3 separate regions of the Homo sapiens genome follow, and all the other regions are linked to region 2. Evidence: fine-mapped expression QTL. A gene starts in region 2. Each other region holds a variant in brackets. All regions are shown on one strand. Distances are from middle to middle.

Region 1 (8,635 bases), 280 kb before region 2:
TCCATTAGAAAAGAACAGTCTCGCATCAATAATCCAAGTTCTTTCCTCAAGAAACCAGAAAATGCAGAGCAAAATTAACTCAAAACAAGTAGAAAGGAGACAAAAATAAAGAGAAAATATAAATAAAATTGAAAACAGAAAAACAGTAGATAAAAATCAAAGAAACTTCCATCACAAGGGATGCAAGAGAAAAAAAGGCAAGGAAACAAAAAGCCAGTTTTTCAAAAAAATCAAGAAAAGTGATAAACCTCTAGCAAGACATACAAGAGAAAAAGAGAAGACATAAATCACCAATATCAGAAATAAAACGGGATATTACTACAGCTTCTTCAGCCATTAAAAGGAATAATAATAGAATACTATGAACTACTTTATTATCATAAATTCAACAATTCAGAAAAACTAGTTTGTTGAATATTGACATAGATAAAATATCTATGACAGAGTGATTTAACAAAATGTTTCAGCTGGGCGTGGTGGCTCAGGTCTGTAATCCCAGCACTTTGAGAGGCTGAGGCAGGGGCTGGGATTACCTGAGGTCAGGAGTTTGAGAACAGCCTGGTCAACATGGCAAAACCCTGTCTCTACTAAAAATACGAAAAATAAAAAAATAGCCAGGCATGGTGGCATGCACCCATAGTCCCAGCTACTCAGGAGGCTGAGGCATGAGAATCGCTTGAACCTGGGCAGCAGAGGTTGCAGTGAGCCGAGATCATGCCACTGCACTCCAGCCTGGGCAAAAGAGCAAGACTCCATCTCAATTAAAAAAGAAAATATATATATATATATATTTCACCTATTCATGGTAAACACTCAGCAAACTAAAAATAGAAAGACACTTCCTCAACTTGATAAACAGCATTTACAAAGAGTCTAGAGAAAACATTATACTTGATGGAGAAAGAATGAATGTTTTCCTCTAAGATCAAGAACAAAGCAAGGACGTCTACTCTCACCACTCCTATTCAACTGGAAGTTTAAGCCAGTGCAGTAAGACAAGAAAAATAAATAAAAGGCATACAGATTGGAAAGGAGGAAATAAAACTGTCCCTATTATTTAGGAAAGACATAGCGGTCTACATAGAAAATCCCAAGGTCAGTAAGATTGCAGGAACAAAACCAGGAAACAAAAGTCAATCACATTTATATGTACTAAGGAACATGTGGAAGCCAAAATTAACAATTTTTGTGCCATTTTCAGTTGCTCCAAAAAGCTTTTAGATGATACTTAGGTATAACTCTAGCTAAGTATGTACATGACTTGCATGCTGAAAACTACAAAATGCTGATAAAATAAATCAAAGAAGACCTAAATAAATATAGAGAGATATACCATGTTCATAGATTAGAAGACTCAACAGTAAAGATGTCAATTTTCCCCAAATTAATCCAAGGTTTAGGGAAATTTATATTATAGAAATTCCAGTGAAATTTTTATAGCCATTTGTAAGCTTATTATTCTTAAGTTTATATGGAAAGTCACAGGACCTAGAATAGCTAAAATAATTTTGAAAAACAATAATAAAGTGAGAGGAATCACTTACCTGATTTCATGACGTATTATATAGCTACAGTAATCCAGATAGAGTGATATTGGCAGAGAGATAGACATACTGATCAAAGAACAAATAGAGAACTCAGAACTAGACTCACAAATATGCTTAACTGTTTTTTGACAAAGGTGTAAAGCCATTAAATGGAGGGATAGTCTTTTCAAAAAATGGTGCTTGAGGAATTGTACATTCGTAGATAAACCAAAAAACAAAATGACCCTCAGCCTAAACCTCACACCTTATACAAGAAGTAACTCAAAAATGCAAACAACATATCTAACAAAATATTTGTTTAGAATATAAAGCATTCTCAAAACTCAAAAGCAAAAAAGCAAAAATTCCAATTAGAAAATGGTCAAAGATATGCACAGACATATCACTGAAGAGGATATACAGATAACCACTAAGCACATACAGAGATGTTCAATATCATTAGTCTTTAGGGAAATGCAAATTAAAACTACCATGAGATGTTACTACATACCTATCAGAATGGCTGAAATAAAGAATAGTAAAACAAACACTGGCAAGGATGCAGAGAAAATGAATCACTCATACTTTGCAGCTGGGAACATAAAATAATACAGCCATTATGAAAAAGAGCATGGCACTTTCTTACAAAACTAAATTCGTGCTTACAATACAACCCAGCAATTGTAGCTGGGTAATCCCGAGTAGCTGGGATTACAGGCAGGTGCCACCATGCCATGGACAATTTACCTAAAAAATGTTCAAAGATTTAAAGATTGAGATGGTAAGATGCCTAATGAGTTAATGCCTAAATCTTAAGTTTTTGCATGTGCACATACCCATGTAACCACCAGTCAAGACATTACTAGAACCCCAGAATGTTCCCTAGCACTTCTTCCCAGTCAGTACCCACCTCCATAGAGGTCATGTCTATTTTATTTCTATCACTGCTGATCAGTTTTGACCATTATTGAATTCATTATAAATGAGGTTATGTAGCATGCAGTAGCAATAGTTTGGTCTTTTATATTACTATATATAGTATTCTCTCATATGACTAATTTATCTGTTTTACTACTGATAAGAATTTTGGACTATCAGTTTGAGACTATTATGAATAAAGTTACTAACAACATTCTTGAACACATCTTTTGGGTTTATGTGCACTTCTCTTGGGTATTTACCTGGAAGTAGAATTGCTGGGTCACAGGGAAAGCACATGTTTAGCTTTACATACTGCTAAACAATTTTTCAAGTGGTTGTACCAATTTATACTTGCACCAGCATGGTGTGAGAGTTCTCATTGCCTCATAACCTTTTTAATACTTGGTATTGTCTATTGTCAGGGTTTGTTTTTTGTTGTTGATGGCTTTTTTTTTTTTTTTTTTTTTGACAGAGTCTTGCTCTGTTGCCCAGGCTGGAGTGCAGTGGCATGATCTCGGCTCACTGCAACCTCCGTCTCCCAGGCTCAAGCAATTCTGCTGCCTCAGTCTCCCAAGTAGCTGGGATTACAGGTGTGTGCCACGATGCCTGGCTAATTTTTGTATTTTTAGTAGAGACAGGGTTTCACCATGTTGGCCAGGATATCTCAAACTCCTCACCTCAGGTAATCTGCCCGCCTCAGCCTCCCAAAGTGCTGGGATTACAGGTGTGAGCCACCGTGCCCAGCTAATTTTTGTATTTTTATTAGAGATGGGGTTTCACCATGTTGGTGTTAGCCAGGCTGGTCCTGAACTCCTGGCCTCAGGTAATCTGCCTGCCTCAGCCTCCCAAAGTGCTGGGATTACAGGTGTGAGCCACCGTGCCTGGCCCAGGGTTTGGTTTTTTGTTGATGTTGTTTTGCGTTTTTTTCATTTTAGCCATTCTGGTGGTTATGTGCTGCTGTCTCATTGGTTCGTCTCATTAAAACCAGTGGTTTTAATTTGCATTTCTCAAATGATTAGTGATGCAGAGCACATTTTCACATACATGTTAGTTATTTGGATATCCTCATCTATGAAGTTTCTAATCAAGTCTTTTGCCTATTTAAAAAACAAGAGGCCATTGGTCCTTTTCTTATTAACTGGCAGGAGTATTTAATCGATTTTGTATATGCATCCCTTTATTTGAAAGAGCTCTCCCTGAGCTGTTTCTGGCTGTGGGCACTCATGCTGCTTTCTACCCAGCTCCTGGCACACCCTGATCACACCCGATGGAGACTCTATTTACCGACACCTCTGGGCTTATGTTTCTGAACCTGCTCAAGTCATCCACTGTCCTCTAGTACCTCTATCCATGTCCCATACCTGCACCAGCACCCTGTCCGTGGCCAAGTTTCAGGCAAGCCATGGGATCTAAAATGTCTCTCTCCCTTCTTTGTCAGGAGCCAAAAGAATTCTTGCTTCCTGAAACTGAGGCAGGCTGAAAGGGAAAACAGATTGATACAAGTGACACGTGATAATGTCACTCTGAATAAAAGAGGTCAAACTGTACTTATCAATAGTCACACATACATACATGCACACACACACCTGCATGCATGTACACAACATGCATGCACACACACAAGCATCAACTTTAATCAGCAAGTCCTTACACTGACCACCTCTTATATATATGCATCTCAGTGCTGGGTACTGTGGAAAACATATGAAAAAGGATTGGGCATGGGCCCAGCAGCTGAGAAGCTTACAATTTAGCTGGAGAGAAAAGATGTAATACAGATAACATGATATAAAATGCTGTGTATTAGACTGTATGTAAGCCCAGACTCAAAAGAGATTTTATTTGTTTGTTTGTTTGTTTTCAAGACAGAGTCTTGCTCTGTCACCCAGGCTGGAGTGCAGTGGCACGATCTCGGCTCACTGCAACCTCCACATCCTGGGCTCAAGCAGTTCTCCTCCCTCTGCTGGGATTACAGATGTCCACCACCACACCCAGCTAATTTTTGTATTTTTAGTAGAGACAGGGTTTCACCACATTGGCCAGGCTGGTCTCGAACTCCTGACCTCATGATCCA[C/A]CCACCTCAGCCTCCCAAAGTGTTAGGATTACAGGCGTGAGCCAACACACCTGGCCTCAAAAGAGTTTTAAAACTTGGCATGCAAGACTGTAAGTGTTAACTTGGGCTGGACCTGGACAGGGAGTTTTTAGAGCACTTCCTTAATATACTTTCTCCTTCCCCTTTTTAGCATGAAGGGTTTCTTGACAATTTTCTTGCACATAGGAGACATTCAACAGATGTTTACCAGTTTGACTGAGGCATAGGATGAGGAAATAAATAGCCACGTAGCTCCCATCGGCTGAACATTTACCAAGTGCCAGACACATATTGAATCATATTTAATTATTGCAACAATCCTGAGAAAGAAATATTACTCTCACTATTTTAAACGTGGGGAAGCTGAGGTTCTGACAAGCGGTAAATAAAAATGCCCAAGGTGGCATGGCTGGCATCTGAGGGCTGTGCCAGGTCTGGTGTGCTGGAGGACTTGCTGCCTGTGGCAAGGTGCTGCCATTGTCTGTTGCTTGAACAAGGTGAGGAGCGCAGCATGCCTGGCCATGCATGATGTCTGAAGTTAGAGCCCAGGACCTAGGGCACTAGATCTGTGGGGTGGGGCCCTGAAAGATTAAGGGACTCTGGAGGTTTTTCTCCTGAGTTCTCTACTAGCCTGGCAGTACCCTTCAAGAAGAATCCTAGGGCTTCCTGATAGGTAGCTTCAGAGGCAAGGCAGCAGCAAGAGGGCGACAAATTAAATAAGAGAAAGTAACGCAACCAGGCTGCCTGTCAGCCCCTGTAACTTCTCCAGATTATCATACTGGACCCATCACTTGCCCAGTCTAGCTAGAAGTTCATCTATCCCCATGAAACCCCCATCTCCCCACCTCCACCATGGCCATCCAGGAATGCCCTAGGTGTGCCATACTCTGTGGCTGCTGTGTTGATATGGATTGGTGGTGTGGCATGATACATGGTCCTGCTTCCTCTGTCTCACTGCTCTGAAACAGGAATTCAGACATGGGTCCTTTGATGTGGAGAGTGTCACGCCTTATTGTCCTAGAGAGTGGGACAGCCTGGGAGGCCTGCCTATCTGACCTTCAGGGCTCCTGCCCAGTCCTCAGGGGGAATCTTCAGTGCCAGTTTGTGTGGAGGAAGCCTGTGGGAAATTGTGTGGACAGCAGTGGCAAGAGAGGGGCTGGGGAGGGACTAGGGGGCACACGGGAAGAGGAAAGGCAGGCAGAGCTAAGTGAGGGGTGGCGGCCAGTCAGGGGCCCAGACACACTCCTTCATGGACCCCCTTCTTTGTCTTCAGTGGTCTTGGGTAGGTCTGCTTTGCAAGGGGCAAAAGAACACAGGATGATCCTTTGGAAGAAGTGAATGTGCATTTCAACAACCGGAAACCTGCCAGGGGTTCTTGGAGGAAAGCAAGCTCAAAAATGAAGGCTTAAGCAAAACAAAATAGCCCACCCCGCAGAATAACCCACAGAGGGAAAAGGAAGACAGGAATAAGACTAAAAGTCTAGAAAAGGGAAGTGCAAATTGGGTTCAAGATGCCTCAACTGCAGGCAGAGCCGTGTGGTTTGAACTGTTTGTGTGACTTGAAACATAGCCCAGCCAAGGTCAGGACCTCTCTTTGTGAAGGATTGGGCTGCGGGGGGCATGTGAGGGGTGCATCTTGCATGTGCAGGAATACCCCTACAACTAGGGAATCAGGCCCCAGCTGCTAGTGGGAAGAGCAGATATTCAAGTAAAAGCTATTTCTGCTGAAACCAAAGATTTATATAAACTCAGATACAGTATTTGTTGCTGTTGTCAGATCCATTTGTCCTTGAAGACTTAAGATGAAAGAAATGCAAACATCTTCCCTGTACATTCATGGCCTATAGGTACTCTGCAATGGTGTGCTGGTAAATGTTAACAACCAGCTTTCTGGAGGAAGAATCAAAACAGGCACAACATGCCTGATATAATAGCATCAATTTCCAGTTTCCTTGGTGTAAATACTCTCCGTGGCCAAGTTCAAGTTGTGAACTTAATATCACTAAGGCGAAGGTGGGTCTAACAGAGTTTAGGTAACCATAATAACAGAGTTTGTTGAGTTTACATTATTTGCTAAATTCTTCATGTGCATCATTTTATTTTATTATTTCAATAGTTTTTGGGGAACACGTGGTGTTTGGTTACATGGATAAGTTCCTTAGGTGTGATTTCTGAGATTTTGGTACCCCCATCACCTAAGCAGTGTACACTGCACCCAGCGTGTAGTCTTTAATCCCTTGTCTCTTTCCCACCCTTCCGTCTAAGTCTCCAGAGTCCATTATGTCATTCTGATGCCTTTATATCCTCACAGCATAGCTTCCACTTATAGGTGAGACCATAGGATGTTTGGTTTTCCACTCCTGAGTTACTTCACTTGGAATAATGGTCTCCAACTCCATCCAGGTTGCTGGGAATGACATTATTTTGTTCCTTTTTGTGGCTGAGTAGAATTCCATGGTATATGTATATCACATTTTCTTTATCCACTCGTTAGTTGACGGACATTTACTTTGGTTCCATATTTTTGCAATTGTGAATTGCGCTGCTGTAAAGATGCATGTGCAGGTGCCTTTTTCATTGTAACGACTTCTTTTCCTCTGGGTAGATACCCAGTAGTGGGATTGCTGAATCAAATGGTAGTTCTACTTTTGGTTCTTTAAGGAATCTCCATACTGTTTTCTATAGTGGTTGTACTAGTTTACATGCCCAGCAGCAGTGTAAAAATATTCTCTTTTCACCACATCCCTGCCAACATCTATTATTATTATCTATTATTTTTTGATTTTTTAATTATGGCCATTCTTGCAGGAGTAAGATGATATTGCATTGTGGTTTTGATTTGCATTTCCCTGATAATTAGTGATGTTGGGCATTTTTTCATATGTTTGTTGTCCACTTGTGTATCTTCTTTTCAGAATTGTCTACTCATGTCCTTAGCCCGCTTTTTGATGGGATTATTTGTTCTTTTCTTGCTGATTTAAGTTCCTTGTAAATTCTGGATATTCACCATTTTGTCAGATGCACAGTTTGCAAAGATTTTCTCCCACTCTGTGGGTTGTCTGTTTACTCTGCTGATTATTACTTTTGCTATGCAGAAGCTTTTTAGTTTAATTCAGTCCCATCTATTTATCTTTGTTTTTGTTGCATTTGCTTTTGGGTTCTTGGACATGAACTCTTTGCTTAGGCCAATGTCTAGGAGAGTTCTTCTGATGTTATCTTCTAGACTTTTCATGGTTTCAGGTCTTAGATTTAAGTCTTTTATCCATCTTGAGATGATTTTTGTCTAAGGTGAGAGATGAGGATTCAGTTTCATTCTTCTACATGTGGTTTGACAATTATCCCAGTACCATTCGTTGGAAAGGGTGTCCTTTCCCCACTTTATGTTTTTGTTTGCTTTGTCAAAGATCAGTTGGTTGTAAGTATTTGGCTTTATTTCTGGGTTCTCTATTCTGTTCCATTGGTCTATCTGCCTGTGCCTATTTTTATACCAGTACCACGCTGTTTTGGTAACTATAGCCTTGTAGTATAGTTTGAAGTTGGGTAATATGAGGCCTCCAGATTTGTTCTTTTTGTTTAGTCTTGCTTTGGCTTTGTGGGCTCTTTTTTGGTTCCATATGAATTATAGGATTTTTTTTCTAGTTCTGTGAAGAATGATGATGACATTTTGATGAGAATTGCATTGAATTTATAGATTGCTTTAGGCAGTATGGTCATTTTCATAACATTGATTCTACCTGTCCGTGAGCATGGGATGTGTTTCTATTTGTTTGTGTCATCTATGATTTCGTTCAGCAGTGTTTGGTAGTTTTCCCTGTAGAGATCTTTCACCTCTTTGATTAGGTATATTCCTAAGTATTTTATAATATTATTTTTTGCAGCTGTTATAAAAGGGGTTGAGGTTTTGATTTGATTCTCAGCTTGGTTGCTGTTGGTGTATAGCAGTGCTACTGATTTTTGTACATTGATTTTGTATCCTGAAACTTTACTGAATTCCTTTATCAGATCTAGGAGCTTTTTGGATGAGTCTTTAGAGTTTTCTAGGTATGTGATCATATCATGGGCAAACAGCGACAGTTTGACTTCTTCATTACTAATT
Region 2 (8,000 bases):
AGTGATGCAGGTGAGGATGAGCATGGACGTGTAGAAGTTAATAGTGTAGATGCCCAGTAGGCTCTTGCACATGACCTGGCCAAACACCCATTCATGGATGCCTGCATAGGCCCAGAAGGGCAGAGTGCAGACAAACACCAGGTCAGCCAGGGGTAGGTTCACCAGGAACACATCCGTCAGGCTCTGCAACTTATGGTAGAAGATGGATATGACCAGCACCAGAGAGTTCCCCACCAGACCACAGACAAACACCACCAGGTACATGCAGGGCAGAAAGACCTTGCTGAACTGCAGGAAGTCTTGATGCTCCTCCTGGCTGCTGTCATTGAAACTGCTGAACCCATAGTCTTCATGGTAATCATGCTCTGCCATGGTGTCTGTTCTGATGAACACCTGTGAGTCAGAACCCAGGAATTATATTTGGGGCTGAGGATGGCATTCTTTGTCTTCCTGCTATCCCATTGACCACATTTAGGGGGCAAATAGTCATCTTCTAAACCCACCCACTGGGATGTGTAGAAACAGCACAGTCCAGTATATTGAAGATAACCAATTCTGAGGGGAAATTGCTCAGACAGGATGAGGACTCTCCATTAGCCTGAAAATTCTCAGGATCTCACCCATCTGGGAGACAACTCATAACTGACCCCTAAGCACATTCCATAAAATCCTGTGCTCAATTATTTTGAAACCAAAAGTCGCTTTGCTGCCAGGTGGGCACAGTGCTGTTTGGAAGAGCAACACTGATGATGGATGGTTGAGCCCACTGATAATATGAGCTCATCAATGGAACATGCCTGTTTTCATCTCCCCCTGCCTCACCACAGTTGCCCACCCATCCTGAGCCCCATTTCCTAATAAATTGTGAAAGCTAAAGCAAGTGCCCCTACCAGGGGGCTCTCCTATCAAGGAGACTCCTGGAGACCACAGGTGTTTGGGGATGGCAAGACTGCTCTGCCTGGGTAGGTAGTCCTTCCTGCCTTTACTTCCCCTCAATTGCATAGATTTTCAAAGGCTACTAATGGGGAAACAAAGCATAGAAAAGCCCACGACTGCCCAGCACTTTGGCTGAGCTGGCTTCATGGTTAAAGCATTGGGTGGTTCTCCTCACTTCCCAACTAAACTTTCCCCTTCATCAGTTAACACAGTTTATGGCATTCTACCATCAGAGCCTCATTTCCTGAAGACTTCTGAACAAGAAGTCTCTTAAAAGGTAGATTTCCCCAAAGCGGAACCTTGCCTTAGCTCCTGTGATTGGCAGGTTAGGACTTAGGGGCCTCATTTAACAAGCAGAAAACCCAATTGAAATGGGATGCCAGATGGGCAACCTTTCTTACCCAGGGCACCAGCCCTTCAAGATGTCACTTCTCTCTGACCCTTCCCTCTGCCCTGTGACCCTGCCAAAGACCATGGACAGGACAAGGGATCATGTAACCTGTGGTGTGGGAGCAGGGGCAGCTGCGGCAACATCAGCCCATGAGTGCCAAGTCTGCCCTTGCTACAGGACTGCAGATACTCAACATGCAGCAGCTCATTTCCAGTGACCTGGAGCCATGTCTGGCCAGCACCTCTAGAAGATGTATGAAGAAGAGCAGGTGTTTGGACAGAATCTCTGCCAGCAAAGTCAAAATATTGCCTGACCAGACAAGTGCATATAAACGATGAGGTTACCTTTCCTAATCCACTCAGAAACACTTCTGTCGCTGACTTTGAGTCCTGACTGGGAGCAGTGTCTCCGATGCTGCTGCTTGCCTCTGTCTTTCCAGGGACCAAAGTGCCCTTTCTCTCTAGCAAGGAAGGATGCTGCCTTTGGGCTAAGACTGCTTAATAAAAATCCTTGCCCTTACGTCACAATTGTTAGATCTCTAAGGGTGATAGGTCAGCCAGTAGACATCCTGCCCCCCACAAGCTCTCTGGGGCACTGTATTAAGTAGGTCAGATGATGTGTATGTGTTATTGATTCACATGGGCAAAAACATATTTTTTCATCATTTAAAATATGAAACAGGTGGCTTTGCTCTTAAGAATAATGTTCAGCTCCCCATTATTGCTTGACTCGCTCTCGCCTTTTTTTGGTATCTTCCTGTTCCAGCTTTTGCTGGTCCCTTATGCTGCCATTACACATTTCCTCAAAGGACCTGTGCAAATTCATGTGTAATAATTGGTAAACTTTGATGTATAATAATTGGTAAACAGATTGGGCCTGGACAGTGCTGTGCAAATAGAGTATGAAAAATTACTTTCCCTTCTAGGCGAACTAAAAACATTCATTTCTTTATCCTCTATAATTAAAATCCTATTTTGTTTTCTGAAAATTAAAAAAAAAATCTACAACTTTGGAAGTAGTGTAAAAGTCTGATAATGATGAAGCAAATTACAATTCATACATAAAATAGAATATACTTAAATGTTTAGGAAGTATTTTTACTGATTTTGGAAAATGCAATACAGTTAAATTGCTAAGAACAGTGTAAACACAAAGTAAATATGCAAAATAAGTATTAACTATTACTATTACAACAAATAGATGTCAAAAGGATATAAAATTGTGATTCTTAACCTTTTTTGACCATAAACTCCTTTGAGAATCTCCTAAAAACTGCAGACCTTTTCTCAGAAATAATGTATATATATATACACACACACACACACACACAGACACACACGCACACACACAAACACCCCTACAATTCTGGGAGTCCATGAACCCCTTGAATCCTTCTGCCATGTATTCTGTGGGCCCTCACATAAGAGTTCATGATAAACTATGTGATTTTAACTGACCGTACTTTTAGAAACCTGGAAAAAATGATCACATTTTATTAACAGTTGGCCTCCAGCTGGTGGAATTATGGGTGACTTATTTCTTCCTTTTTTTAAAATAGTTTTCAAAGTTTCTACAGTAGTATGTTGATTTATATTGAAAAAAGAACATAAATGATAATCTGATAAAACAGCCTGTCTTATGCAAAAGAAATGAAAACAGAGATTATTCATTGAGCAAATATAGACAATAACTAGATTCTCCTTATCTCCCTGGGTGGGTCTGACTATGCCATTACTAGCAGTACCATCAGCCTGCAAGCACTAACTGTGTGCCTGGAAACATGTTCAGTAGTTTTCATGTTTCTCCAGTTTAACCCACACAGCAGCAAATGGCAGTGATGGAATTTGAACGAAGAGCAGCTGAGCTCCATAGCCTGGCATTTTGCACTGTACCCTACTACAGACAGGAATCTGAGAATACCAACAATACCTGGGGTTAGTCCTCCCTGTCTTCTTTTCAATATAAAGAGTAAAACAAATGACTCACCAGCAGAGATGCTTTGCCAGTTTGTTCCAGAGATGAGCTTGCTCATGAAGCAAGGTCTGCCTCTACTTCTGTGATGTGGTTCATGTTTCCGCTGAACATTTTTTAAGAGCCCTCAGCTGGTTACTATAAGAGACCCACCCCCTACTCCCGTCCTTCAGATCAGAATCCATATGACCAACCCGCCCCTGTGTAACGCGTGGGTCAGAGATGGATGGGTGACTGATACCCCACACTCCCTTCATTCTGCTTTGGGGCTGATTCTTCTGTCAGGGCCTGACGAGCTTTATTCGTAAACTAAAGGGGAACAATAAGGAGGTTTGGCTCTGGCCATCCACCGAAGATGGTGGCATTTGTACCTTAAAATTACTTAATTCACTAGTCAGACATCTTTTTGGAACAGTTAGGGTCTGGGCCAATGCTGAGTCCATGGTATGGGCTGGGTTCTGCGTGCATATGCAGCTCCAGCATATGTGATAGCTGTTAAGCCCCATAGCAGCCCTGCAGTGGATATTATCCTGCCTTTATAGATGAGAACACTGAGGACCATAGCCAAAATAACAAGCCCTGGTGCACACAGCTAGAAACTGGAAAATCGAAGATACACACTCAGGTATCTGTCATTACCAGACCAATCAACAGCATGATGATGGGTCTGCCAGAGGGCCTGGTGCAGCCCCACCTCCTAAGCCCACACCACTCAGGCACTCAGCAGGCAGTGCCCACCCACCCTGCGTAGGCTGGCTGGAATCATCTGGTTTCCTTGGGCTGCCCTCTGTACTCCTGGAATTCCCCAGATGTTGACTACTTTGATCTCAGTACAGTTCTAGTTGTCAGTCTCCATGATCTAACATTACTGACCCTTCTGGGAAATAACGCTGGAAGGCAGGAATTGGAGGCATGTCAGCCTGGGTCACATGCCCCAGTGCCTTGTAGTGGAGAGGGTACTAGGGAGAGGCATGGACTCGATGTCTGCTTTCCCAGAAGCAGCTGCCTTCTTGTGGAGGTGCCTGGCCTGCCTTCTCTGGCTCTGCACTCCCATTCAGGCTGCTTCTCTCCAATGCTGTTGCTCTCTCCCACCTGCTAGGCAAACCTTCTCATGTGGCTCTTCCTAAGGGCAAATGTCAAGCATTGGGAGCAGGGACCAGGAGCAGCCTCAGGATCCAGAGACTAACACTCATTTCTACCGCAAGCCTGGCCCTATGCTGGATGCTTCTATGTACAGCCATCTAATCCTAGTCACGTACAGATAGGCAAACAGAAGATTAGAGAGATTAGCCCACTTGCCCAAGAACACACATCCCTGGCAGTCACCCAGGACTGTCAGGCTGCAAAGCCAGTGCTTCCTGCCCTGCTCTGAGTATGGAGCTGTGCCAGGGGGCCCTGATAAAAGATCTGAAGACCTCTAGTAGGTTTGCAGGCCTTTTTGAATGAATTCGTTCAGACTGTCCTTTCTACCAAACTGGTACAAATGAGTGAGGTGTTCCTTATGGGCATGAACCATGAGGCCGCATAGACTACATACCGATGGACAGATGGATGTAGGGAATGGTGGACAAATGAATAAAGGAACAGACTGAGCCAAATATGCACCTGTCTTCCTGAAAGAGAACTTTCAAGGCAGGGTGGCAATTTAATGTAACCCTGCCTGACATTTAGGAATCTTTAAGCTTTGAGAGCTGAGTTTTACCCAGGGACAACCAACCATGCCATTCAAGACAGGTCCATAGGGCAGTGTTAGAATGGCCTGAGCCTTGTCAAGCACCCTTGGCCATGCTTTTCTCAGCAAGCCTTTCTACTCCATGGGGAAAAACAAGCCAGCACCTGGGGCCCTCCATGACTGTGTGTACATGTCAATATGGGGATATGTGTATTTGAGAAAGCATGGCTTGTTTATCGTGGCCATTCTTTAATAGAAACTTCTCTATAGTACAAAAGACTTTCACCTAAATTTGAGGAGCTGAGCCACTTGCAGGTTTGGGGCTAAAATTTTATTTTAATCACTTTACAAAATGCCGTTTACTATCTGCCAATTTATAGTGTTAATTGTTTTAAGGGCATTACTTTTATTTGAAACAAAACTTTGAACTTCCTAAGGGTGGGAACCCAATCATATATGTCTTAGATTTCCCCAGAAATACCTAAACATTTTCTAAATAAAATTGAGGGAAGAGTAAAAAGGAAGTGGCAGACATACCTGCTGCAGATTTATCTTGGAAGTCAGACTGTTGGCCTGCTCTCCTTACCTGAAGACCTGGCAGAGCTGTTATCAGTTCCAGGATTCAGGGATGAGACATTTACAGTTGTTGGCAAGGCATTGGTGGATGATGGGCTGTGATCCACAGAAAAGTAGCCTAACCAGCCAGGCGTGGCAGTGGGCACTTATAGTCCCAGTACTCAAGAGGCTAAGATGAGAGGATCATTGAAGCCAGGAGTTTGAGGCCAGCCTGGGCAACATAGCCGGCAGACCTGTACCCCTGCAAGTCACCAGGATGAGCTGAGAGATCATCTGGTGGGAGCAGAGCCACTATGGCTGAGAGGAATTGTTCTGGAGGAACAATTGTTCTATAAGCAGGAGAGCAGGAGAAGGAAACCGCGTACAGGGGTTGACTACCTCCAGCGGAAGAAGGTGAGTTGTAGGAGTGTCTTACCACTAGGGAATGTGTCTGAGTCATGTGGCACCAAAGTATGTTAGCAGCAGCAAATCCATATGGGTCTGCAGCAACTCAAGTCTTGCCTCCTTGGAGGAAAGAATTTGGCCGAGGGGCAGAAGTAGGCTTAAGGCAGAGGGAGAGACTGAGGCAAGTTTTAGAGCAGGAGTGAAGGTTTATTAAAAAGTTTTAGAGCAGGAACAAATGGAAGTAAAGTATACTTGGAAGAGAGCCAAGCAGGTGACCTGAGAGATCCAAGTGCCCCATCCGGCCCTTGACTTGAGGTTTTATACATTGGCATGGTTCCAGGGTTTATGTTTCTTCTCCCCCGACTCTTCCCTTGGAGCAGGCTGTCCGCAGGCATGGTGGCTTGCCAGCACTTGGGAGGAGCTGCATGCTCAGACTGTTTACTGGAGGTGTATGCATGCTCATTTGAGGTGTTTTTCCCTTATCAGTCGTTTCTAGAGGAAGGTCACATACCGGTTAAACTGCCATTTTGCCTCTTAGTGTGCGTGCTTGAGCCCACTCGCCCAACTCCTGAGATCTTGTCAGGAAGCTGCTGATTACCAGCTTCAGATGTTTTCTATCTATTGGGAGACTCTTTCTCTGGCTCTGGCTGCAACCAGTTATTTTAGAGAGACAGCTTAACAATTGCCTGACCATTACTTGATGGTCACCTGACATTCCTGGGGGAGGGGGGCCCTCTCCTGCCCTGCTCATGTCTGCCTAGCTACCTACTCTAACACTAGGAATTTATAAGCAATGGATTAGCAAAGTAAAATCAAGTTAATACAATAATAATAATTTGATAGCAAAATTTAAAGATGCCCCCAGATCACAGAGTGAATATGATGTGTGTGGTGTGGTTCAGCCCAACCTTCCAAACCTGCACTGGTCAGTGGAGCCTTCTGCTGTGAGAGACCTGTGCTGTACCTGCACTGCCCAACACAGTGGCCACCAGTCCAGGTGGCTAGTGCCACTTGAATTGAGCACTTGAAATGTGGCTAATGCCACCAGGCAGCCACATTTTTAGTTAAATTTATCTGATGAATTTAAGTTTATATAGCCACATATGGCTAGTGGCTACTGTATTGAAGAGTGCAGTTCTAAACTGAAGACATCTCCATTTCACAGGAGACTGTTCACAAATGGAGGCTGACCAGAGGGACGATGGGAGCCTGTGTAATCAGGAAAACAACACTTCTCACTCTGCGGGGCTTAGCGAGGCTGAGGGGAGATGGCACCCTCTGGGGAAGATTGGCAGCAAGGCACCTTGGGCCATAGGGATTTTCCAGGCATCTGTTCCTCCCTCAGCTAGTTTCTAAACAAGCAGATCTGTACTGCAGGCAGTCTGCAGGATTAAAGTTGTGCAGTAATTACATAACAAACAGGCTGAGGCCATTTGAGTCGTGACAGGGAAGGACTATAGACTCCCATTTGTAGACACCAAGCTGAAGGGGCTCCACCATGACTCAGAGAGGTGTGGACTCCAGGACTACAGTGCCAGGGGCTGCCTGATTTGTGCTCACCACTTTATTCTGACTCGCTTCTAATGTGGAGCCTTGGGTATGTCCTCCTTTGGGAGCATTTGGGACAGAAGAAAACCTTACCCTGAGACAAATAATGTAGATATTCACTGGGCATGGGCTGTGTGCACAGCAGGCTGCCCAGGAATGCCAGGATGGCACCCACAAAGGGACAGACAAGTTGACGGACTAGAACATGTGCTCAAGAGATATTCACTCAACTGACCACAGGCTGCAGACAGAAACTCGGAAGGAAAGGGTGGCATGCCATCAGCCAAGCTAGCAGTAGGCTGCCATGACCAGAGCAAGGGGAGGAGGAAAGCCGCGTGGGCAGTGAGTATCTGGTATCTTTGCTGAGGCTGCCTCAATAGCAAGGAAAGGAAGCAGCTGTAGTAGGAGGTGGGGTGCCCTCTAGTGGTCATGCTTTGGTTGCTGTCCTTTCTCAAGCTCTTACATCCCTTGACATCCTCTGAGTTGCTTGAACATTTCCTACAACATCTCATGGTAAGAAAT
Region 3 (8,635 bases), 130 kb before region 2:
CAAACAATAGGAAGCAGCTGCAATTTTAAAAGCGTGCTATGTAAAGCAAAACCACCAATGTCAAATTGCCAATGCCTGGACCCAGACCTCCCTTCCCCAAGGCAGAGGTGAAAAAACGCTGTTCCCCCTACCCTTTTTCTTTTCTGGAACCCAAATCTCCTGCCCATTAGGCACAGATGGAAAACTCCCATTCTAGTAAGGGAGGATCGGAAAACATAGCTCAGGCAAAATCTAGACCTTCAACCAAAAAATGGGAAAGGCCCAGATCTCAGCAGGACTCATACCTTACATTCAACAATTTCTCTCAAAGTCAGAATACAAGAGGTTCCCAGAGCTGGCCAGGCGCTGAGTCTGGGAGGTAAGTCAGATAGTAGAGCCAAGGGGGTTATTCTGAATCCTTCTCATGGCACCAAAAATGCTGACCCCAAAGGAAGAAGATGAGGCACAAAATATATTCATAATTTTGAAGACTTTACTTGAGCCAACATGAGGCCAGCTGCTCAGGACACACTTCCAAGTTGCTTTGGGGAGTGCCGCATCCAGCCTTTGTTGCGAGCAGGCTTTTTAAAAAATAATTTCAACTTTTATTTTAGATTCAGGGGGTTACATGTGCATGTTTGTTACATGGCTATATTGCATGATGCTGAAGTTTGGGGTACAAATGATGCCATCAGCCAGGTAGCGACCATGGTACCCAATAGGTGGTTTTTCAGTCTTTGCCCCTTTCCTTCTCTCCCCACTCTAATAGTCCCCAATGTGTGTTGTTCCCAGCTTTATGTCCCTGTGTGCCTAATGTTTAGCTCTCACTTATAAGTGAGAACGTGCGGTATTTGGTATTCTGTTCCTGTGTTAATTCACTTAGAATAATTGTCTCCAGCTGCATCCATTCAGGCAGGTTTTTAAAGACAAAAAGTGAGCAAGGAGTGGACTGATACAAAGCTATTTGACAGGAATTCTCATTGGTTTGCAGAAATAACATTGATTAGTGATTGGCTTTATGTTGTTGAGCTACAGCAGTGGTCCCCAAAATTTTGGCACCAGGGACGAGTTTCATGGAAGACAATTTTTCCACAGACCTAGGAGGAGTAGGGGAGATGGTTTGGGGATGAAGCAAGTGCATTACATTTATTGTGCACTTTATTTCTATTATTGTTACATTGTAATATATAATGAAATACATGACTCACCATAATGTAGAATCAGTAAGAGCCCTGAGCTTGTTTTCCTGCAACTAGATGGTCCCATCTGGAGGTGATGGGAGACAGTGGCAGATCATTAGGAATTAGATTTTCGTAAGGAGCATGCAACCTAGGTCCCTCGCATGCACAGTTCACAATAGGGTTTGCACTTCTATGAGAATCTAATACTGCTGCTGATCTGACAGGAGGAGGACCTCCGGTGGTAATACTAGAAATGGGTAGCAGCAGATAAAGTTTTGCTCACTTGCCTGCCCACTGCTTACCTCCTGCTGTGCAGCCTAGTTCCTAACTGGTCTGCGTCCCAGAGGTTGAGGACCCCTGAGCTAGAGGATATGAGTTGTGGCATCCATGATTATGGTATATGGCATTTTATAGCTACGTGGCATCAGTTAGTCCAGAGCCCACAGCAAGTGGCTTCAAGAGGTAACTACTTAGCTCAAGCAGGGACTGAGATGTGACAGCTTTTTACTCCAAAGCCTTTCTGGGCTGGATATATTAAAGGGGTTTGTATTCCTCACATAAAAAGTTTCTTTTCTCTCTCAGTGCTCACACAGGGGTCAGCTTTACCCCAGTGAGATGAAATTCAAGTGCAATCCTTGACTTCTCCTATGGCAAGTCCAAGTATTCTTTCCTCAGAAGTGACAATATTACTTCAATAGAGGGCAGTGGCCCACAGCAAATTTCTCTAGCATCTGGAAAGTGAAACTATCAAGAAGGCCAACCTGATAAGGTCAGTTTGGGACCATTGAGGTATAGCCCCTTGTTTTCTATGCCCCAGCATAGAAACTTTCCTCCTTCCCAGGGAAATATGTGAACTAAACAGGAGCCACAATTCTGTCTTTTAACTTTGCTGCTGCTGATTTCAATGATATCCTATTTTTTTTTTTTTTTTCAAAATAATGGCTACCATTTGTTAAGCTTCTACAAAATGGCAATCATTGACCAACATCACATCTAAAGCACTCAACTCTGCAAGATGAGTGTCTTTCTCATTTTACAGCTGAGGAAGCTGAGGCACAAAATATATTAATAATTTTGAAGACTTTACTTGAGCCAATGTGGGGCCAGCTCAGACAAAATATTCAGCCAAGAAGTAGGAACGGCCCAGATTTCAGCAGGACTCATACCTTACATTCAACAATTTCTCTCAAAGCCAGAAGAATACAAGGGGTTCCCAGAGCTGGCCAAGTGCTGAGTGTGGGTGGTATGTCAGATGGTAGAGACAAGGGTATCTTTCAAATTTGCCTAAATTGTAGGACCACATGGAGTAATTGTTTTGCATACAAAATCCAAGTCTCCCCTGGGCAGTGGTTCTTAATCTTAGCTGCTCATGGAATCACTTGGGGCAGGGTTGGAAGGTGACTGTTAAAAAATCTTGGTGGCCCAGGCCAGCACTATCTATCCTGTTGGCTCTTTTTCCTGGAGAACCCTGACTAACACATATGGTGCGTGCTTGGTTTTTAAGAGGCTGCTATACTCTTTTCAGAGTGGCTATGCCATGTTACATTCCCCAAACTAGATAGCAAAGTATGAGATATCTAGATTTTTCCACATCCTTGTCAGAATTTGGTATTGCCACTATTTTTACTGTTTTAACTATTATGATACATATGTGATAATATCTTATCATGGTCTTAATTTGCCTTTCCCTTGTAGCTAGTGACATTGAATATATTTTCATGTGCTCATTTGCCATTTGAAAAATCCTCTTCCATGAAATGTCTCTTCAAGTCATTTCCTATTTTTTAACTGAATTGGTTGTTTTTTGTTTGTTTGTTTTGTTTTCTTTTTAAATGTTGAATTTTGAGGATTCTATATATATTTTAGACATGAGCTATTTGTCTGATATGTGGTTGGAAAATATTTTCTCCCATTCTGGAGATGGTCTTAACAGGGCCTTTTGCAGGGCAAATGTTTTTCATTTTAATAGTTTATCTATTCTTTCTTTTATGTATTATATTTTTGGTGTTATGTCCAAGAACTCTTCACCAAGATTTAGGTCTCAAAGATTTTCTCTTATGTTTTCTTCTTAAAGTTTTATAGTTTATCCATTACATTTATATCAATGATCCAATTTGAGTTAATTTGTGTATAAGGTCAAAGGTTTAGATTGAGGTTTCTTGGTTTTGATTTTTGTTGTTTTTTTTTTTTTTTTTTTTTTGGTCTATGAGCATCTAGTTGCTCTAGCACTATTTGTTGAAAAGACTATCCTTCCCTCATTGACTTGCTTTGGCACCACTGTCAAAAACCAGTGGGCCATACTTGTGTGGGGCTACTTCTGGGTTTTTTTAACTCTCTTCCATTAATCTTTGTGTCTGTCCCTCTGCCAATATCACATATTACTATAGCTATGAAATAAGTCTTAAAATTGGGTAGAGTGATTCTTCCCATTTCATTCCTTTTCAAAGTGCTAATTATTCTTTAAATATTTGAAATAGTTTCCAGTTAAACTCTCTGGGCCTGGAAATTTTTTTCTTGGGAGATTTTAATTATGAATTCAATGTCCTTAGTAGTTACAGGGCTATTCAAATTATCTGTTTCATAGATGAGTTATAGTAGTCTGTGCTTTTTGAAGAGTGGGTTTATCTCATCTAAGTTGACAAGTTTTATGTGTGTAGAGTTGTTCACAGTACAGTTGATTCTTGAACAACATGGGTTTAAACTGGGAAGGTCCACTTAAATCCAAAATTTCGTCTACCTTTGCCACCCCTGAAACAGTAAGACCAACCCCTCCTCTTCCTCTTCCTCCTTTAGCCTACTCAGTGTGAAGACAATGAGGATGAAAGCCTTTATGATGACCTACTTCCACATAATGAATAGTAAATATATTTTTCTTCCTTATGATTTTTTTTAAAATATAAATTTAAGTGGTACAATTGCATTGTTACATGGATATATTACATAATGATGACGTCTTGGCTTCTAGTGTATCTATCACCCAAATAATGTACATTGTACCCATTAAATAATTTCTCATCCTTCACCCCCCACCACTACCTCCCGTTCTTCTGAGTCTCCAGTGTGTATTACTCCACATTCTATGTCCATGTGTATACATTATTTAGCTCCCACTTATGAAGGAGAACGTGCAGTATTTGACTTTCTGTTTCTGAGTTGTTTTACTTAAGATAATGACCTCTATCACTTGAGCCTTGGGGGTTGAGGCTGCAATGAGTCATGATTGTGCCATTGCACTCTAGCCTGGGCAACAGAAAAGAGACCCTGTCTCAAAAAAAAAAAAAAAAAAAAAAAAAAGATGGCCTTCAGTTCCATTCGTGTTGCTGCTTTATGGCTGAATAATAATTCCATTGCATATATATTGTAAATTGTGCTGTGATAAACATGCATGTGCAAGTTATCTCTGATATAACTATTTTCTTTTCCTTTGGGTAGATACCCAGTAGTGGGGTTGCTGGATTCAATGGTAGTTCTACTTTTAGTTCTTTGAGAAATCTCCATATTATTTTCCAAAGAGGTTGTACTAATTTACATTCCCACCAACAATGTATAAGAGTTCCCTTTTCTTCACATCTTCACCAGTATCTGTTGGGTTTTTTTTTTTTAATTGCCATTCTGATTGGTGTAAGATGGTATCATGTTCTGGTTTTCATCTGCATTTCTCTGATGATTTGTAATAATGAGCATTTTTTCATATGCTTTTTGGTCATTTGTATATCTTCTTTTAAAATGTCTATTCATGTCCTTTGCCCACTTTTTAATGGGGTTATTTGTATTTTGTTGTTGTTGAGTTGTTTGAATTCCTTGTAAATTCTGGATATTAGTCCCCTGTCAGATGCATAAGTCGCAAATATTTTCTCCCATTCTGCAGGCTCTCTGTCCACTCTGTTGTTTATTTCTGTTGTTTTTGTTTTTTGTTTTTTGTTTAAGAATCTCACTCTGTCTCTCAGGATGAAGTACAGTGGCATGATCTCAGCTCACTGCAACCTCCGGCTCTCAGGCTTCAAGCAATTCTCATGCCTCAGCCTCCCAAGTAGCTGGGATTACAGGTGTGTGCCACCATGCCCAGCTAATATTTTAGTAGAGATGGGATTTTGCCATGTTGGCCAAGCTGGTCTG[G/A]AACTCCAGGCCTCAAGTGATCTGCCCGCCTCAGCCTCCCAAAGTGTTGGGATTATAGATGTGAACCACTGCACCCAGCATCTGTTATTTATTTCTTTTGGTGTGCAGAAGAGTTTAACTAAGTCCCACTTGTCTATTTTTGTCTTTGTCATATGTACTTTTGAGATATTAGTCATTAATTCTTTGCCTATACCAATGTCTCGTTTTTCCTAGGTTTTCTTCTAGTATTTTTATAGTTTTGAGTCTTATATTTAAGTCTTGAATCTATCTTGAGTTGATTTTTTTATGTGGTGAGAGATATGGTTCCAATTTCATTCTTCTGCATATCGCAATTCAATTTTTCCAGCACCATTTATTGAACAGGGTATCTTTTCCCCAGTGTGTGTTTTTGTCAGCTCTGTCAAAGATCAATTGTCTCTAAATATGTGGTTTTATTTCTGGGTTCTCTATTCTGTCATACTGATCTATATGTCTACCTTTATACTAGTACCATGCTGTTTTGGTTACTATAGCCTTGTAGTATAATTTGAACTCAGATAATGTGATGCCTCCAGCTTTGTTCATTTTGCTTAGGAATACTTTAGCTATTCAGGCTCTTTTTTGGTTGCATACAAATTTTAGAATTTGTTTCTAATTCCAATAAATTATCAACATCATTTTTCTAATGATAGGAATTGCATTGAATCTGTAGATTTCTGTGGGCAGTATGGTCATTTTGACAATATTAATTCTTCTGATCCATGAACATGAGATATTTGTCCTTTTATTTGGGTCATCTATAATTTCTTTCATCAGTGTTTTGCTGCTTTTCTTGTAGAGCTCTTTCACCTCCTTGGTTAAATTTATTTCCAGGATTTTTTGTTTTGTTTTTATTTGTTTTATTTTCACTGAGACAAGGTCCCTCTCAGCCACCCAAGCTGGAGTACATTGGTACGATGTCTGCCTCCCAGACTCAAGCAATCTTCCCACCTCAGCCTCCCAAGTAACTGGGACTCTAGGTGTGCACCACCATGCCCAGCTAATTTTTTGTATTTTTTGTAGAAACAGGATTTCACCATGTTGCCCAGGCTGGTCTCGAACTGCTGGGCTCAAGCGATCTGCCCACCTCAGCCTCCCAAGATGCTGGGATTACAGGCATGAGCCACCATACCCAGCCTAAGGTGGTTTGTTGTTGTTGTTGTTTTAATTTTAGTTATTGTAAATGGGATTGCTGTCTTGATTTGGTTCTCAGCTTGATCATTATTGGTTTATAGAAATGCTACTGATTTTTGTCTGTTGATTTTGTATCCTGAAACTTTACTGAATTCATTTATTAAATCTAAAGGATTTAGTATTTTCTAGATATAAGATCATAACCTCAGCAAGCAGAAATAATTTTACTACCTCTTTTCCAATGTGGATTTTTAAAATTTGTTTCTCTTGCCTCATTCCTCTGGCTAGGACTTCCAGTATTATGTTAAATAGGAGTGGTAAATGTGGACATTCTTGACTTGTTCCAGTTCTTGGAGGGAATGCTTTCAACTTTCCACCGTTCAGTATGAGGTTGGCTATGGGTTTGTCATATATGGGGCTTTATTATTTTATGGTATGTTCCTTCTGTGCCTAGTTTGTTGAGTGTTTTTATCATGAGGTGATGCTGAATTTTATCAGATGGTTTTTCTATATCTATTGAGATGATCATATGGCTTATGTCCTTAGTTCTGTTTATGTGGTGAATCACATGTATTGATTTGCATATGTTGAATCATCCTTGTATCCTTGGAATAAAACCCAGTTGATCATCCTGTATTATCTTTTGGATATGCTCTTGGATTCTATTTGCTAGTATTTTGTTGAGGATTTTTGTATCTATGTTCACGGGGAATGTTGCTCTGTAGTTTTCTTTTCTTCTTGTATCCTTGTCTTTAGTATCAGGGTGATACTGGCTTTGTGGAATGAGTCAGGGTGAATTCCCTCCTCAATTTTTTAGAACAGTATCAGGAAGATTGGTACAGTTCTTCTCTTTACATTTGGCAGACTTCATCTGTGAATCCATCTGGTGCTGGCCTTTTTTTGAAACTTAAAAAAAAGCCACCTGGGCCTGGGATTTTTTGGAATAAAAAATCTGGCAATTTTTTTTATTATCGATGCATTCTCATTACTTGTTATTTGTATGTTCAGAATTTCTATTTCTTCCTTGTTTAATATCAGTAGGCTGTATATTTCCAGGAATTTATCCATTTCCTCTAGGTTTCTAGTTTATGACTATATAGTTGTTCATAATAGTCTCTAATGATCTTTTGTATTTCTGTGGTATCAGTTGCAATGTCTCATTTTCATTTCTGAGTATGTTTATTTGGATCTCCTCTCTTCTTTTGTACAAGAAATGCTCAAAGGAGTACTAAAGATGGAAACAAAAGGTTGGTATTCACCATCATAAAACCACATGAGAATATAAAAACTCACAGGTTTCATAAAACAATTACACAAAGGAGGAAGAGGAAGGAATCAAATGGCAACATGACAGAATACCACCAAACCACAAAGACAACAGACAAAGGAAGAAAAAGCCAAGAATTGATAAAACAACTAGATAACAATTAACAATATGACAGGAACAAAATGTCACATATCAATATTAACCTTGAATGTAAGTGGATTAAATGTTCCACTTACAAGATAAAGACTGACATAATGGATTAAAAAAACAAGATCAAACTGCATGCTGCTTACGAGGAACTCAACTTTTTGGTAGACACATATATACTGAAAGTAAAGGGGTGGAAAAAGATATTCCACACAAACAGAAACCAAAAGGAAGCAGGAGTAGCTATAGTTGTATCAGATAAAACACACCTTAAAAAAACCCAAGGGTCATTATATATAATGATAAAGGGATCAATTCAACAAAAGAATATAACAATCCTAAATATATATGCAGCCAACACCACAGCACTCAGATTAATAAAACAAATATTACTAGATCTAAAGAAAGAGATGGACAATAACACAATAATAGTGAGGGACTTCAGCATCCCACCTACAGCATTAGATAGATCATTGAGACAGAAAATTAACAAAGAAACATTGGACTTAAATTGGACTTTAGACCAAATGGACCTAATAGACATTTACAGAACATTCCACTCAAAACTATAGAATATACCTTCTTCTCATCAGCATATGGAACATTCTCCAAGATAGATCATCTGTGAGGCTGCAAACCAAGTCTCAATGCATTTTTAAAGATCAAAATCATATCAAGTATATTCTCAGATCATAGTGGAATAAAACTAGAAATCAATAACAAGAACTCTGGAAACTATAAAAATACATGAAATTAAGTAACATGCTCCTGAATAATCTTGGGTCAATGATGA

Evidence for each region.
Region 1: its variant is fine-mapped to the expression of CXCR6 in whole blood (TOPMed, PIP 0.94).
Region 3: its variant is fine-mapped to the expression of CXCR6 in whole blood (TOPMed, PIP above 0.99).

What each region holds. Positions count from the first base shown.
Region 1 is chr3:46,219,014-46,227,648 of GRCh38, reverse strand. It overlaps a transcript of CCR3 not described here. Among named protein-coding and RNA genes, the nearest start is that of CCR1, 15 kb to the right of the region's middle. RefSeq lists an enhancer at 5,812-5,981. The variant C/A (reference allele first, on the strand shown) is at 4,522.
Region 2 is chr3:45,938,854-45,946,853 of GRCh38, reverse strand. It overlaps CXCR6 (C-X-C motif chemokine receptor 6), which reads right to left and starts at 3,390. Exons shown (of 2, transcript NM_006564.2): 1 at 3,314-3,390; 2 at 1-393. The coding sequence starts at 372. The region is part of intron 14 of FYCO1 (FYVE and coiled-coil domain autophagy adaptor 1); the gene reads left to right.
Region 3 is chr3:46,070,034-46,078,668 of GRCh38, reverse strand. It overlaps a transcript of XCR1 not described here. Among named protein-coding and RNA genes, the nearest start is that of XCR1, 47 kb to the right of the region's middle. The variant G/A (reference allele first, on the strand shown) is at 5,277.